Linked DNA regions of Homo sapiens: region 2 is linked to region 1. The links come from fine-mapping of genetic effects on gene expression. Tissue or cell type: whole blood. Region 1 holds a variant in brackets; the other region holds the start of a gene. All regions are shown on one strand. Distances are between the middles of the regions.

Region 1 (6,426 bases):
AGCAGATACTCATTGAGGGGTTGGGTGTGTGAACAGAGGGATGGCCTGGGGATCCTGGTCGCTGTGGATGGGCAGGTTTTCACTGACCTCCTGTGTTCCGCCTGCAAAATCATTAGCAAATCAATGTCAGTATCCGGCTGACCCCGAAATGAATCAGACAGCAGTGGGTGCAAGGAGGTCACAGGCAGAGGTGTGGGGACTCATGGCAGAGGCAGGACAGAGCTGGGCCCCAGGCGGGCTCTGGACTCTGGGCAAGCTGCTGTCACCTTGAACCGCAATTTCCTCTCCTTTCTTTTTTTTCCAGGTGGGGTCTCACTCTGTCATCCAGGCTAGAGTGCAGTGGCACGATCTTGGCTCACTGCAACCTCTGCCTTCCCAGGCTTAAGCAATCCTCGCACCTCAGCCTCCCAAGTAGCTGGGACCACAGACATGTGCCACCATGCCCACCTAATTTTTTTGTTTTTTGAGACGGAGTTTCGCTCTGTCGCCCAGGCTGGAGTGCAGTGGCACGATCTCGGCTCACTGCAGCCTCTGCCTCCCAGGTTCAAGCAATTCTCCCTGTCTCAACCTCCCGAGTAGCTGAGATTACAGGCACCCACCACCACACCTGGCTAATTTTTTGTATTTTTAGTAGAGACAGGGTTTCACCATGTTGGCCAGTCTGGTCCTGAACTCCTGACCTCAGGTGGTCCGCCTGCCTCCGCCTCCCAAAGTGCTGGGATTACAGGCGTGAGCCACCACGTACAGTCCCTGCTAACTTTTGTATTTTGGGTAGAGATGGGGTTTTATCATGTTGGCCAGGCTAGTCTTGAACTCCTGACCTCAAATGATCCACCTGCCTTGTCCTCCCAACGTGCTGGGATTACAAGTGTGAGCCACCATGCCCGGCCTTGGTTTCCTCTCCTTTCTAATGGGAGCAGCAACCCCCAAGCCCAACCCCCTGGAGGATGCACGGGGCATCCCGTCTAAATGTTGGCCATCTCCGGGCGGTGTGGTCATCCTAAGGCTGTGACACGTCTTGCTTGGGGGTGCTCTCTAGTCTTTGTTAGCTGCTGGTGGTGGGGCTTTTGCTTGTGTTGCCCCAGTTTGTGCCACAGGGAGGACAAATCCAGCATCTCTTGTTAAAGCACCACCTCGCTTAGTCCTTATCCTGCCCTGAACTTTAGATTTTGTTTATTTGAGTTATCTGGTTGATCTTGAAATGTCAGATTAAGACTCCTTTCCTGTTTCCTACACATCCTGAGAGAATGCAGCAAGTCCAGGGTTGGCAGCTTTGTGTTGGGGCAAGGGAGGTGAACAGGCAACCGGGACTCCCAGGCTGTTCCTCTGCACACGCACCTATCCCCTCAACGAGTATCTGCTGAACACTGGAGGGCTCGAGGCCATCTTGGACTCAGGGTGGACTTGTTCCTGTTTCCCTCTCGCTCTTTTTTTTTTTTTTTTTGAGACAGAGTCTCGCTCTGTTGCCCAGGCTGGAGTGCAGTGGCGCAATCTCGGCTCCCTGCAAGCTCTGCCTCCTGGGTTCACGTCATTCTCCTGCCTCAGCCTCCCGAGTAGCTGGGACTACAGGCTCCCAACACCACGCCTGGCTAATTTTTTGTATTTTTAGTAGAGATGGGGTTTCACCGTGTTAGCCAGGATGGTCTTGATCTCCTGACCTCGTGATCTGCTCGCCTCAGCCTCCCAAAGTGCTGGGATTACAGGTGTGAGCTACCGCACCCAGCCTCCCTGTCACTCTTAAGTTGAGACTCAATCTCACTGAAGCTGAGTTTCTCCCCTAGAAAGAACAGCCACCTCCCCAGCCTTCACTATGCCAGGGTAGGGGCAGTGAGCATCAGGCCAGGGGCACCAGGTGTTCAGTTATTAGGCTCTCTCCAGGTATGGTCTGTGTCCTGCAGGAAAAGCAGGTAGGTCAAGAGACTTCTCTTTTTGTTTGTTTGAGACAGAGTCTTACTCTGTTGCCTAGGCTGGAGTGCAGTGACACAATCTTGGCTGACTGCGACCTCCGCCTCCTGGGTTCAAGTGATTCTCCTGCCTCAGCCTCCCGAGTAGCTGGGATGACAGGCATCCACAGCCATGCCCGGCTAATGTTTGTGTTTTTAGTAGAGACGGGGTTTCACCATGTTGGCCAAGCTGGTCTCGAGCTCCTGACCTCAACTGATGCACCCGTCTTGGCCTCCCAAAGTGCTGGGATTACAGGTGTGAGCCACTGCGCCTGACCCAAGAGACCTTTTAATAATTACTTATTTAAGTGAAAATTTTGAATGCAGGTGTGCTGTCTGCCCAGGAGCCCGTGTATGACTGTGCATGGCGGCTGTCATCAGGTGGCATGCATTGAATGGGGATTATTGACTGTAAAGGAGAGTCATCAAGCTGACATGGCTGCTGCCTGTGTTACTTATCTGGAATTAATTGGGGTGCTTCATTTATTTTTTACAAGTCAGCAGTGGGCCGGGTGCAGTGGCTTACACCTGTAATCCTAGCACTTTGGGAGGACTGCTTGAGGCCAGGAATTTAAAACCAACCTGGCCAACATAGCAAGACCCCATCTCTAAAAATATTTGTTAAAGTCAACAGTAGGGGGTGCACACAGCAATGAATGGAAACACAGTGACTGCATTTGAGGATGTTGTTCAATATCAAATTTAGCCTCCCCCAATTGTGCTCTTCTTCCTAACTTCGCTCCTCTGCTCCCACTAAATTCCCTTTTTTTTTTTTTTTTTTTTTGAGATAGTGTCTCACCATGTTGCCCAGGCTGGAGTGCAATGGTCTGATTTTTGACTCACTGCAACCTCCGTCTCCTAGGTTCAAGCGATTCTCCTGCCTCAGTCTCCCAAGTAGCTGGGATTACAGGCCTGTGCCACCCCGCCCAGCTAATTTTTGTATGTTTAGTAGAGACGGTGTTTCACTGTGTTGGCCAGGCTGGTCTCTAACTCCTGACCTCAGGTGATCCACCCGCCTCAGCCTCCCAAAGTGCTGGGATTATAGGTGTGAGCCACTGAGCCCTGCTGCTCCCAGTAAATTCTGCTGGAAAGACCAGAGTGCTCTTTTGGCCAGTCGCTCAGCAGTGTCCTGGCCATCTACCCGAGGATCTCCCTGCTTCTGGACCTCTGCTTCCCTCCCACCACTGTCAGGGTGGAGCCCCCTCGTCACCAAGTTGCTGTACTGCAGTAGCTGCCTCCTGGCACCAGGTGTGCCCACCTCCCACCACGGCTACCAGAGCTGTCTTCCTCAAACCCAGCTCAGATGGTGTTGCCCTCCACGTTACATGGCTCCACGCTGCCACTAGAATACAGCTCCAGTCTTTGGTGTGGCACCCAGGGTCTCGCAGCCAGACCCGGCCTGCTGTTCCGAGGCCTCGTGCGTTGGGGACTCCAGCCACTCCTGGCCTTTGTGTTGGGGCCCTGGCTAACTTTCATATTTTGGGTAGAGATGGGGTTTCACCATGTTGGCCAGGCTGGTCTTGAACTCCTGCCCTTCCCTAATGTGTGGTGCATGTTCATGCCACCCATTTGCTTCTCTTCCTGGGGCCTAGCATTCCTTCCGTGGGCTGCTTTCCTTCAACTCTTCTTCCTTCAGGACTCAGTTGAGATCGCACCTCCCCACCAGACATTCTTCATTGACTGTCCCCATCATAGCACTGTGCTTCTACCTGTCATTTCAGAGCCAAGCACGGTGGCGCACACCTGTTGTCCTAGCTACTTGGGAGGCTGAGGCAGGAGGATTGCTTGAGCCTGGGAAGCTGAGCCTAATCTAGGCAACAGAGCAAGCTCCTGTTTCTTAAAAAAAAAAAAAATACACA[CATAT/C]ATATATATATATATATATATGTAATTTTAGTTTGACTCACATTATTTTTGTTGAAAGTTTACACACGGAGTGTGTAGGGACTTTACAGGCAGAGACCAATTGCTTGGTGACAGTACGTACCCAACAGGATTTTTGTTTTAATTTGGGATGGGGTCTCACTATGTTGCCTAGGCTGGTCTCAAACTCCTGGGCTCCAGTGATGCTCCCACATCAGCCTCCCAAAGTGCGGGGATTACAACTGCATGCAGCTGCACCAGCAGGATTTAAAATGTCAGGGAAAGTCAGTACTGTTTGCAGCTCCATTTCTGAGTAACTCTGGGATGTGAGTTTTGATCCTATATTTGGCCATGTTACTGGTAGTCAAAGATAAAACTGCCTTCCATGCAAGTACAGGATGTCATCACACACAGTAGCCTGGTGGATGATGTGACTCCCACCCTCCCAGGAAAATTCTCATCTCTTGCTCTAAGTTGCCATCAGCCTTCCCAGGGCATGAGGCAGAAGATGTTAGGTTATAAAAACTTGTCGGCCAGGCATGGTGGCTCACACCTGTAATCCCAGCACTTTGAGAGGCCAAGGTGCGTAGATCACGAGATCAAGACTATCCTGGCCAACATGGTGAAACCCCGTCTCTACTAAAAATACAAAAATTAGCTGGGCATGGTGGCTTGCCTGTAGTCCCAGTTACTCTGGAGGCTGAGGCAAGGGAATCGCTTGAACCCGGGAGGTGGAGGTTACAAAGATCATGCCATTGTACTCCAGCCTGGGAACAGAGCGAGACTCCGTCTCAAAAAAGCAAACCAAAAAATCTTGTTAGAGATACATTTACATGTGTTCTCCCTTCAGCCCTGGTGTTTTCTTTACAAGTGTCTTCCTGGTTGTATGAGTAGCAAGCAGCCTTGGACAGCATGACCTCTGCTCCCTCGGGGACAGTGTTGACCTTGGGCAGCACTAACTCATTGTTAGGTCAGGACCATCATCAGTCTTCTCTAAAAGGCAAGCAGAAATTTTAATTTCAGACTGGGTGTGGTGGCTCACGCTTGTAATCCTAGCACTTTGGGAGGTTGAGGCAGGAGGATCACTTAAGGCCAGGAGTTTGAGACCAGCCTGACCAACATAGCAAAACCCTGTCTCTACTTAAAATACAAAAATTAGCTGGGTGTGGTGGTGGGCGCTGTAGTCTCAGCTACTCAGGAGGCTGAGGCACAAGAATCGCTTGAACCCGAGAGGCAGAGGCTCCAGTGAGCCAAGATTATGCCACTGCTGAGCCAAGATGGTGCCACTGCACTCCAGCCTGGGCGACAGAATGAGACTCTGTCTCAAAAAATACTACTAATAATAATCAATTAATTAAAAAACAAGGCCAGGTACAGTGGCTCATGCCTGTAATCTCAGCACGTTGGGAGGCCAAGGCAGGCAGATCACCTAAGGTCGGGAGTTTGAGACTAGCCTGGCCAACATGGTGAAGCCCCGTCTCTACTAACAATACAAAAATTAGCCAGGTGTGGTGGCACATGTCTGTAATCCCAGCTACTTGGGAGCCTGAGGCACAAGAATCCCTTGAACCTGGGAGGCAGAGGTTGTAGTGAGCCGAGATCACGCCACTACACTCCAGCCTGGGTGACAGAGCAAGACTCTGTCTCAAAAAAAAAAAATTAAATTTTAATTTCAAGGATGAGGATGACTTTAGCGAAGTATCAAATAATGAACATGATTTCTACCTTTAATTTTTTTTTTTTTTTGAGACGGAGTCTCGCTCTGTCGCCCAGGCTGGAGTGCAGTGGCACGATCTCCGCTCACTGCAAGCTCCACCTCCCAGCTTCACGCCATCCTCCTGCCTCAGCCTCCTGAGTAGCTGGGACTACAGGCACCCACTGCCATGCCCAGCTAATTTTTTTGTATTTTTAGTAGAGATGGGGCTTCACCGTGTTAGCCAGGATGGTCTCGATCTCCTGATCTTGTGATCCACCCGCCTCAGCCTCCCAAAGTGCTGGGATTACAGGTGTGAGCCACTGCGCCCAGCCTCAATTTTTTTTTTTTAAATACAGCTTCCCTCTTCTTTCTACCCCTATACAAATTACCAGAGCAATTACTGCTATAGGATTAAATTAAAGGAATTCTTAAATTAAATGGTTGGCTGCTGAACCAAGTTGTAGCAGTTGAATATGGAATTTTGTAGTGATTTATTATAATCCTAGTTTTTGGAAGAAAATTTGCATCACTTAGCAGATATTTAAGATGCTTGTAACATTTCATTTCCCAGTACACATAAATATGCATTATGTCAGGCATTGGAATGTTTAGCAAACTAATGAAATTTGTAATTTAATTTATCAGGTCACAGCATTTAATGAAGAACTATTCAGTGTCAGTTTATGCCGTTAGGTAACAAACAGGATTGTGTTACGCAGTAATTTATACAGAAAAGTATTTTATAAATAAAATGTCAAATAAATGCCACTTTTTGTTTTAAAATGATATGTTTAAGAAATAATCCTAAAGGGAAAATGTCTGCTTTGTCGAATAAAGTAATTAAAGCATTTTTTTAAAACAAGAGAAAAAAATAAGGACAAAGCAGGGACAGACAGGAAAATGTCAGTGTGTTTGCATCAGCCAGGC
Region 2 (6,426 bases), 52 kb after region 1:
GCCACGTGCAGCGACGTGCCACCGCCCTCCACGCGGCTGCAGCCACGCCGGTCCAGCACGCGCGCCCGCTCCTCGGCCGGGAAGTCGCGCAAGGTGCGCAGGATGCGGCGCAGAATGCCCACGCGGTTGTAGCGCACTGCCAGCGCCACGTGCGGCCCGGGAGCCGCGCAGCAGCGGAAGCCGGCACTGGGCGGTGCGAGCGCGCGCCGCGGGAACGTGGCCAGCAGGTAATGCGCGTACGCTTGGTGGTCGTGCACGAGCGCGTAGAGCAGCGCCTCAGAGGGCGAGTAGGCGGCGGCGCGCCCGCGCTCGTCCCAGTGGAAGGCCTCGCTGGCGCGCATATCCTCCAGCAGCCACACGGGTAGCAGGTCGCGCACCGCCTGGTAGAAGGCGAACGACGACTTGCGGCACTGCTTCTGCGCTCGCGAGCGCGCCGCGCCCGAGGCCTCGGGCCCGCCGTCCGCGCCACCCCCAGGCCGCCGCGCGTCCCACGGCATGCTGGCGGCGGGGCGTTCCTGGGCCTCAAGGCATGGATCCCGCGAAGGCACACCTGCGGGGAAAGGAAGAGGCCACGGTGAGGCGCGGGGAAACTGGGGAGGCCCGGGGACTCCCCTCTGCCCCTCACACAGCCCCTCCGGTCCTGGCCCACCAGGCCTGTACCTACCTCCAGCCTCGGCCAGGCCCTTCCAGTCACCCTACAGCTCCATCTCTCCGACGCCCAGAACCACCGCCTCCATCCTTGATCTAGCTGTACCTGTTCTCCCTCCTTGAAACTGACTTGCTCTCTGGCACCTCTGCTGGAAATGCCCTTGCTGCCCATGCCCTCAAATCTCCCCTCCCCTCTCCAACCCAGGGACCCACTGGAAGAGCTTCTGTTCCCACCTAAGCCAGGTTCATACGACCCCAAATAAAGAAAAGGCCAGGGAGGGGATGAGAAAGCTTGGGCCCACATCTCAAGCTGAGGCAAATCCACTCTCCAGCCCAAGCGCAACCCTGACCCTGATCTCCGACCCCAGACCACTTGGAGGCCCCTGGAGCCTCTTCCTGGGCTGTTCAGAGGCATGATCCAGACTCAGACCTACCTGGTTCCTGCACCGCGATCACCTAGTTCCGGGGATGTGGGTATATCACAGTCCCTGGCCGAGCCTCAGCTTTATCTGTAAGAAAGGGGAGGGGTGGACGACGGCTGTGCGGGCGGGGTGAGCCTGGGGCGTGGCACCAGCCCTCTATCCAAACATGTTTGCTTACACGTTAGCTCCTGGGAGGAGATAGGAGGGTGAAAACAACCTGGAGACCGGTGTGCACCGCACTGCACAGTCTGCCATCCTCTTCAGGTCCCATACCTCTCTTGATCTCCCCGACTACTAGATGAAGCGGGTACTGCCATCCCACTTTCCAGCAGGGCACAAGCTTCTCCAATTCTCCAAGGTCAGCAAGCCACGGCAGAGCCAGGCCTAGAACTCAGGTCCCCTGCGTCTCAGTTTGGGCTCATTCCAGAATTGGTGGGGACCCCCAACCCACAGGCAATCGAGCTTAGGCCCTGACCCTGCCCTCTGAGTCCCCAGCCCCGACCTGAGCCTAGGCGTCTGACCTCTGGCTCCGTCCCAACCTCCCTACTGCCTTCTTTCAAGGGTAAGCCCTTGGTCACAAGGGGCCTGGGACAGAAGGCAGGCCGCGTCCACACACACTGACTGGGTCACTATCACTGGCAGTAACTGAGTTAAAGAGAGCGGCGCGGTGCGGGTAGGCTGTGGCCCGTGGGCAACACCGTGACTGGAGCCCCTTCCCCAAGCCTGGGCCTCCGGGCCCCAGATATGCCCTGTGCCGGCACGCGTGGGGCGCCGGGCGGGTTACGTAAAGTTCGGCCTCCCCACGTCACCGGGCAGAGTCACGGCCGCGGCTCGTGAATAAGGGGGTTGGGCCATCGAAGGCAGCGCCGCGCCCGGGGCCACCCGCCACCTCCTACCCGTCCCCTCCCGGCCTGCACGGCCAGACGTCGGGCGGCGGAGGGTCGCGGGGCCGAGCGGGGCGTCCGCGCGCAGGTGGCCGGCGCAGCGAGGGCTGCACCTGCGTGCGCGTGTGCCGGAGGAGGAGGGGGCGGCGGCCGCGGGCGCGGCGCGGGGGACGGGGACTCACCATGGGGGGCGCGGGGGCCACAGGCCGGGCGTCCCCGCCCCTGCCGCGGACCGGAGCGCGCGCTGTCCCCCGCGGGCGAGCGGGCAAAGGTCCCACGACGGACGCACGGGAGGGAGCCACCGCCGCCCGCGCCCGCCGCAGCCGCGCTCTGAGCCGCCGCGGCCGGATCGCAGGGCGGCGGTGCCGTCGCCGGCGGCGGGCGGCGGGCGGCGGGCGGCGGGCGGCGCAGTGCGGCCCCGGCCAGGCAGGACAGCGGGACCGTCCGCCGCCGCCATTGGCCCGCGCCGCCGGCCCCCGCCACCACCCATTGGCCGCCGCGCTGCACCATTGTTACGTCACTGGCCGGCGGGCGGGGCGCACCGCTGGACCCGCGGAAAACTTCGGAGAAACTTGAGGGAGCGCCGGCGGGGAGAACGGAGAGGAGGGGCGGGGCCGTGGCGAAAGGGGCGGGGCGTTGATGGGCGGGGGCGGGGCTCCCGGAACCCGAGCTGCGGGCGAAGAAAGGCTCCGAGCTCCGAGCTGCCCTAGCCCGGGAGGGCGCCGCTGCTCTGCGAACTCGGGCGCGCGCGTAGGTGGCCCGCCCTCCGCCGTGCGTGACTTTCCTCGTCGCGTCCAGCTCCCCTTTTCTTTGACCTTACGTGACCTTGGGAAAAACCTCCAGGCTGCTACCCCATCTGCACATGGGAGGGCCGGGGGTAGGAGCCGCGACCCCTAAGGGCTCCACCGCCTTCTGCCCGGCCAGGGTCGTGCCTGGCGCGCCCCCGCTCCAGCTGACCCGCGCAAGGGAGGGAGGGGCGGACGGATGGGGACAGCTGTTTAGGAGCGCGCACTGCGCCCATCTCGGCCTCAACACTCATGTTTCCACTTCGTTTCACGACCACCAGCCACAGTGGACACGATGATCCCCAGTTCACCCGCCAGCAAATCAGGGCTCAGAGAGGTGGCCTCAAAGAGAGGAGCGGCCAGGAGGGAAGCCGGGGGTTTGCCCTGCGGTTCTTCCCACATCTGGGCGGGATAGATTCGATTGGGCCTCGGCCACCCCCACCGTCTCCGTCGGGGGTTCCAAGGTTTGGGGTCATGACCTAGGGGGCTTAGGAGCCTGGGTCCATCTCAACTAATTTATGGCCTCACTCGCCCCCAGCGGCTGGGAATTCTAGGCCCATTTTACAGATGTGGACGCAGATCTGGAGAGGGGCAATGACTGCTCAACCCCCCACCCATCCTCCCAGACACGACCTTCCACCTGGAATCCCCCCACACACGTTCTCAGAGGCCAGGCAGCCGGGGTCTCATGGTGAAATCCCCACATTCCATGCAGGGGCTCTTTCTGGTTCCTTCCCTAGAATGCTGTCCCTGCCCTTCCAGTACTATCTCACCAGGGAGACCCTCCCACTCCCCCACTCCGCTCCAACCAAGCAAGGCCTCTGCCTCGCCCCGGTGGGAGGGGCCTCGTCCAGAGGGCACGCCCCTGCACACACAATCAGCCCTGTCCTGGCTTCTCTGTGTGCCCCAGCCAGTCAGTCTGGGTGGAAGTCTTACCTGGGCCCTCTCAACAGACCTAGGCAGGCCTCTGTCCCCAGCCCAACGAGCTCAATCCCTTAAGCACACACGCCACAGAGCAGTCCTGAGAGGCCAGGTGGACAGTACCATGAGGCAGACAAAGCTGTGAGGCCCAGAGAGGGTCAGGCCACCCCAGCCCAGGTAGGCACTCACATGTATCCTGCCCAGGCTGCCATGCATGGACCCACCAGGGGGATGACCAGACCCCACCAGCCCTGCCCCACCTCAGGGCGGGGGACGTTCCAGGCCACGCCATCTCTCCCAGGGAGTCCATGGCAACTGCCAAGCTTACAGCAGCCAGGTTGTCAGCAGGAGTAGGGGTATAGAGGGCACTGGGCCTGGCATCCGCACCCGCCTTTGCCTCAGCTCCACATGTCTCCTCCTGTATCTAGGCCTATCTCCCTAGGGCTTCTCCCATCTGCCGGTTCTGGATGCCTCTGAGTACGATGGTGGGGAGAGCAAAGTGAGTGAAGGTCCTGGAGTCAACAATCGGCCTTTGGGAGCCCAAACCCTGGGGGACATCTTGGGGAGATGGTGCCCATGTGGGCTGTCTGTGGCTCAAGGCTCCCCTGCTCTCTTGCCCTCTTCGAAGGCTGGAGTTGAGATACAGCCGTCTCCATGGCTACTGGTGGAATGAGGGTGAAAGGGCACCAGTGGATGCCAGGCTGTGCACTGGGCCTCAGGGCGGGTCTCTCTCCACCCCTTGATGTCTTCCCTGCCCCCGTGCCCTGACCTGCCCTCCTCACTGGGGATCCCAGAGGGTTTTTTTTTTTCCCAAGACAAAGTCTCATTCTGTCACCCAGACTGGAGTGCAGTGGTGCAATCTCAGCTCCCTGCAACCTCCACTTCCCAGGTTCAAGCAATTGTCATGCTGCAGCCTCCCAAGTAGCTGCAATTACAGGCATGCACCAGCACTCACAGCTAGTTTTTGTATTTTTAGTAGAGACGGGGTTTTGCCATGTTGGCCAGGCTGGTCTCGAACTCTTGGCCTCAAGTGATCTGCCTGCCCCAGAGACCTTTTTCTAAAAGCCAAGTCTGACCCTGTTTCTCTGCTGCCTAGAAGCTTCCTGTGGACATGGACATAGCCACAAAGTCCAGATGGGCAGAAAGAGGCATTTCTGGCAGAGGGCAAAGCAGGGGCCAAGGTCTGGAGTGTGACACAAAGGCTGCAGAGGCCACCTGACTGGCCAGGTCCCATGGGGCCTGGAATGCCCGGCAAGGATCCTGGATTTTCCCCTGAGGCCCAAGTGGAGGGGTTGGGAAGTGGTTTCACTAGTGAATTATTTTAGACACACATACAAAGAGCATCATGATGCCTGGGAGCCCGGGACCCAGTTGAAGGAGCAACACACGGCAGATCGGAAGCCCTGCGTGCCTGTCCCCTCCCTCCCCAGCCAGCCTCAGTGTGAGTCCGCGTGCGTCTTTCCCACTGTAAGTGCAAGTGGCAGCAGACATAGTAACACTCCCTGCCATGGGGCTCCACAGCACTGCCTCACCTCAGCCTCTTGCCTTTTTCTCCTGAGGTCACTTTTAGATCCAGCCCCAGGGGAACCCCCTGCTTTGGGTTGCAGCCGCCATCTCTGCTGCAGTGTCTTCTGATGAAAGCTGTCCCCTGTGGGCATGAGTGTGGACATGCTGCACCTCCTAAGGCAGCAGTGCCAAGGCTGATGGTGCCCTCCACGGTGGTTTCATGGCATCGCTGCTGCACTAGAGGCTGCCCAGGGACGTGTGAACAGCTGTGAAGGGGCAGGTTCCTCAGGGAGGGAGGATGGGCTGCGGGGAGGGTGGCTGGGGCAGGGGAATGGGCAGAGCATGACTTCCAAACACCTAGGAAGCCCCAGGTGGAGGGCGGAGGGGGGTCTTGCCATCTTGGGATAGGAGTTGACCTTTGACCCCATCATGCTCCTGCTGGGACCTGACCCAGGCACACTCCTCTTCCTCTGGGAGGGCTTGTCCCACCAGGGCAGGGGTCTGTGTGTGCCCAGGCAGGGAGCCACAGGCAGTAGGGGGAGGCTGGGGCTGCAAGCACAGAGGCCCCGGAAAGTGTGTGAGGACGCTGGGGAGTGGGAAGGGCCCTCGGAGGGGTGGTATGGCCGGCTTAGGTTTTCTCGACAACTCTAGTTGAGTATGCACTGCAGGGAGACGGAGAGGCCGCAGCCACTGAAGCCAACTGTGCTGGAGCAGGCGGAGGGCACCAGGGGTCCCTGGAGAGAAGTGCCGCCTCCTGCCAGGCCCCTGACCTATAGGTGAGGGTGTGAGCAGAAGAGGAGAATCTAGGAGGCCTCCCGGGTATTAGGGGAAAGCTGAGCACCTGGAAGATGGCAGAGCCAAGAGGTGTCCATGGCCCTGGAGATGGGGTCATGAGTATAAAGAGGGCGCTTGGAGTGTGAGGCACCAGGGATGGGAGGTGAGAGGCCCGAGGCCCCAGCCGGGGCTTCCAGGAAAGGAGGTGGGAGAGGGTCTTGGGGCCAAGAAGGCACAGGGCTTCCCGAAGCCAAGGTGTCCCAAAAATAAGGGAGCGGTCGGCTGGGACAGATTCAGATGTGGTGGCTCACACCTGTAATCCCAGAACTTTGGGAGTCCGAGGCGGACAGATCACCTGAGGTCAGGAGTTCAAGACCAGCCTGACCAACATGGTGAAACCCTGTCGCTACTAAAAACACAAAATTAGGCCTGGTGGTGCATGCCTGTAATCCCAGCTACTCGGTAGGCTGAGGCAGGAGAATCGCT

The links. PIP is the estimated chance that this variant, and not a neighbour inherited with it, causes the effect.
Region 2: it holds the start of ANKRD9, and the variant in region 1 is fine-mapped to the expression of ANKRD9 in whole blood (INTERVAL, PIP above 0.99).

Annotation. Positions count from the first base shown.
Region 1 is chr14:102,455,164-102,461,589 of GRCh38, forward strand. All of the region lies in intron 16 of TECPR2 (tectonin beta-propeller repeat containing 2), which reads left to right. Among named protein-coding and RNA genes, the nearest start is that of ANKRD9, 51 kb to the right of the region's middle. The variant CATAT/C (reference allele first, on the strand shown) is at 3,803.
Region 2 is chr14:102,507,393-102,513,818 of GRCh38, forward strand. It overlaps ANKRD9 (ankyrin repeat domain 9), which reads right to left and starts at 2,384. Exons shown (of 4, transcript NM_152326.4): 1 at 2,137-2,384; 2 at 1,249-1,454; 3 at 1,083-1,157; 4 at 1-550. The coding sequence starts at 497. It overlaps LOC105370679 (a long non-coding RNA gene), which reads left to right and starts at 2,651. Exons shown (of 4, transcript XR_007064352.1): 1 at 2,651-4,159; 2 at 4,986-5,422; 3 at 5,839-5,942. RefSeq lists silencers at 1,172-1,333, 2,328-2,767, 2,928-2,977 and enhancers at 2,458-3,101, 3,102-3,747, 3,748-4,391.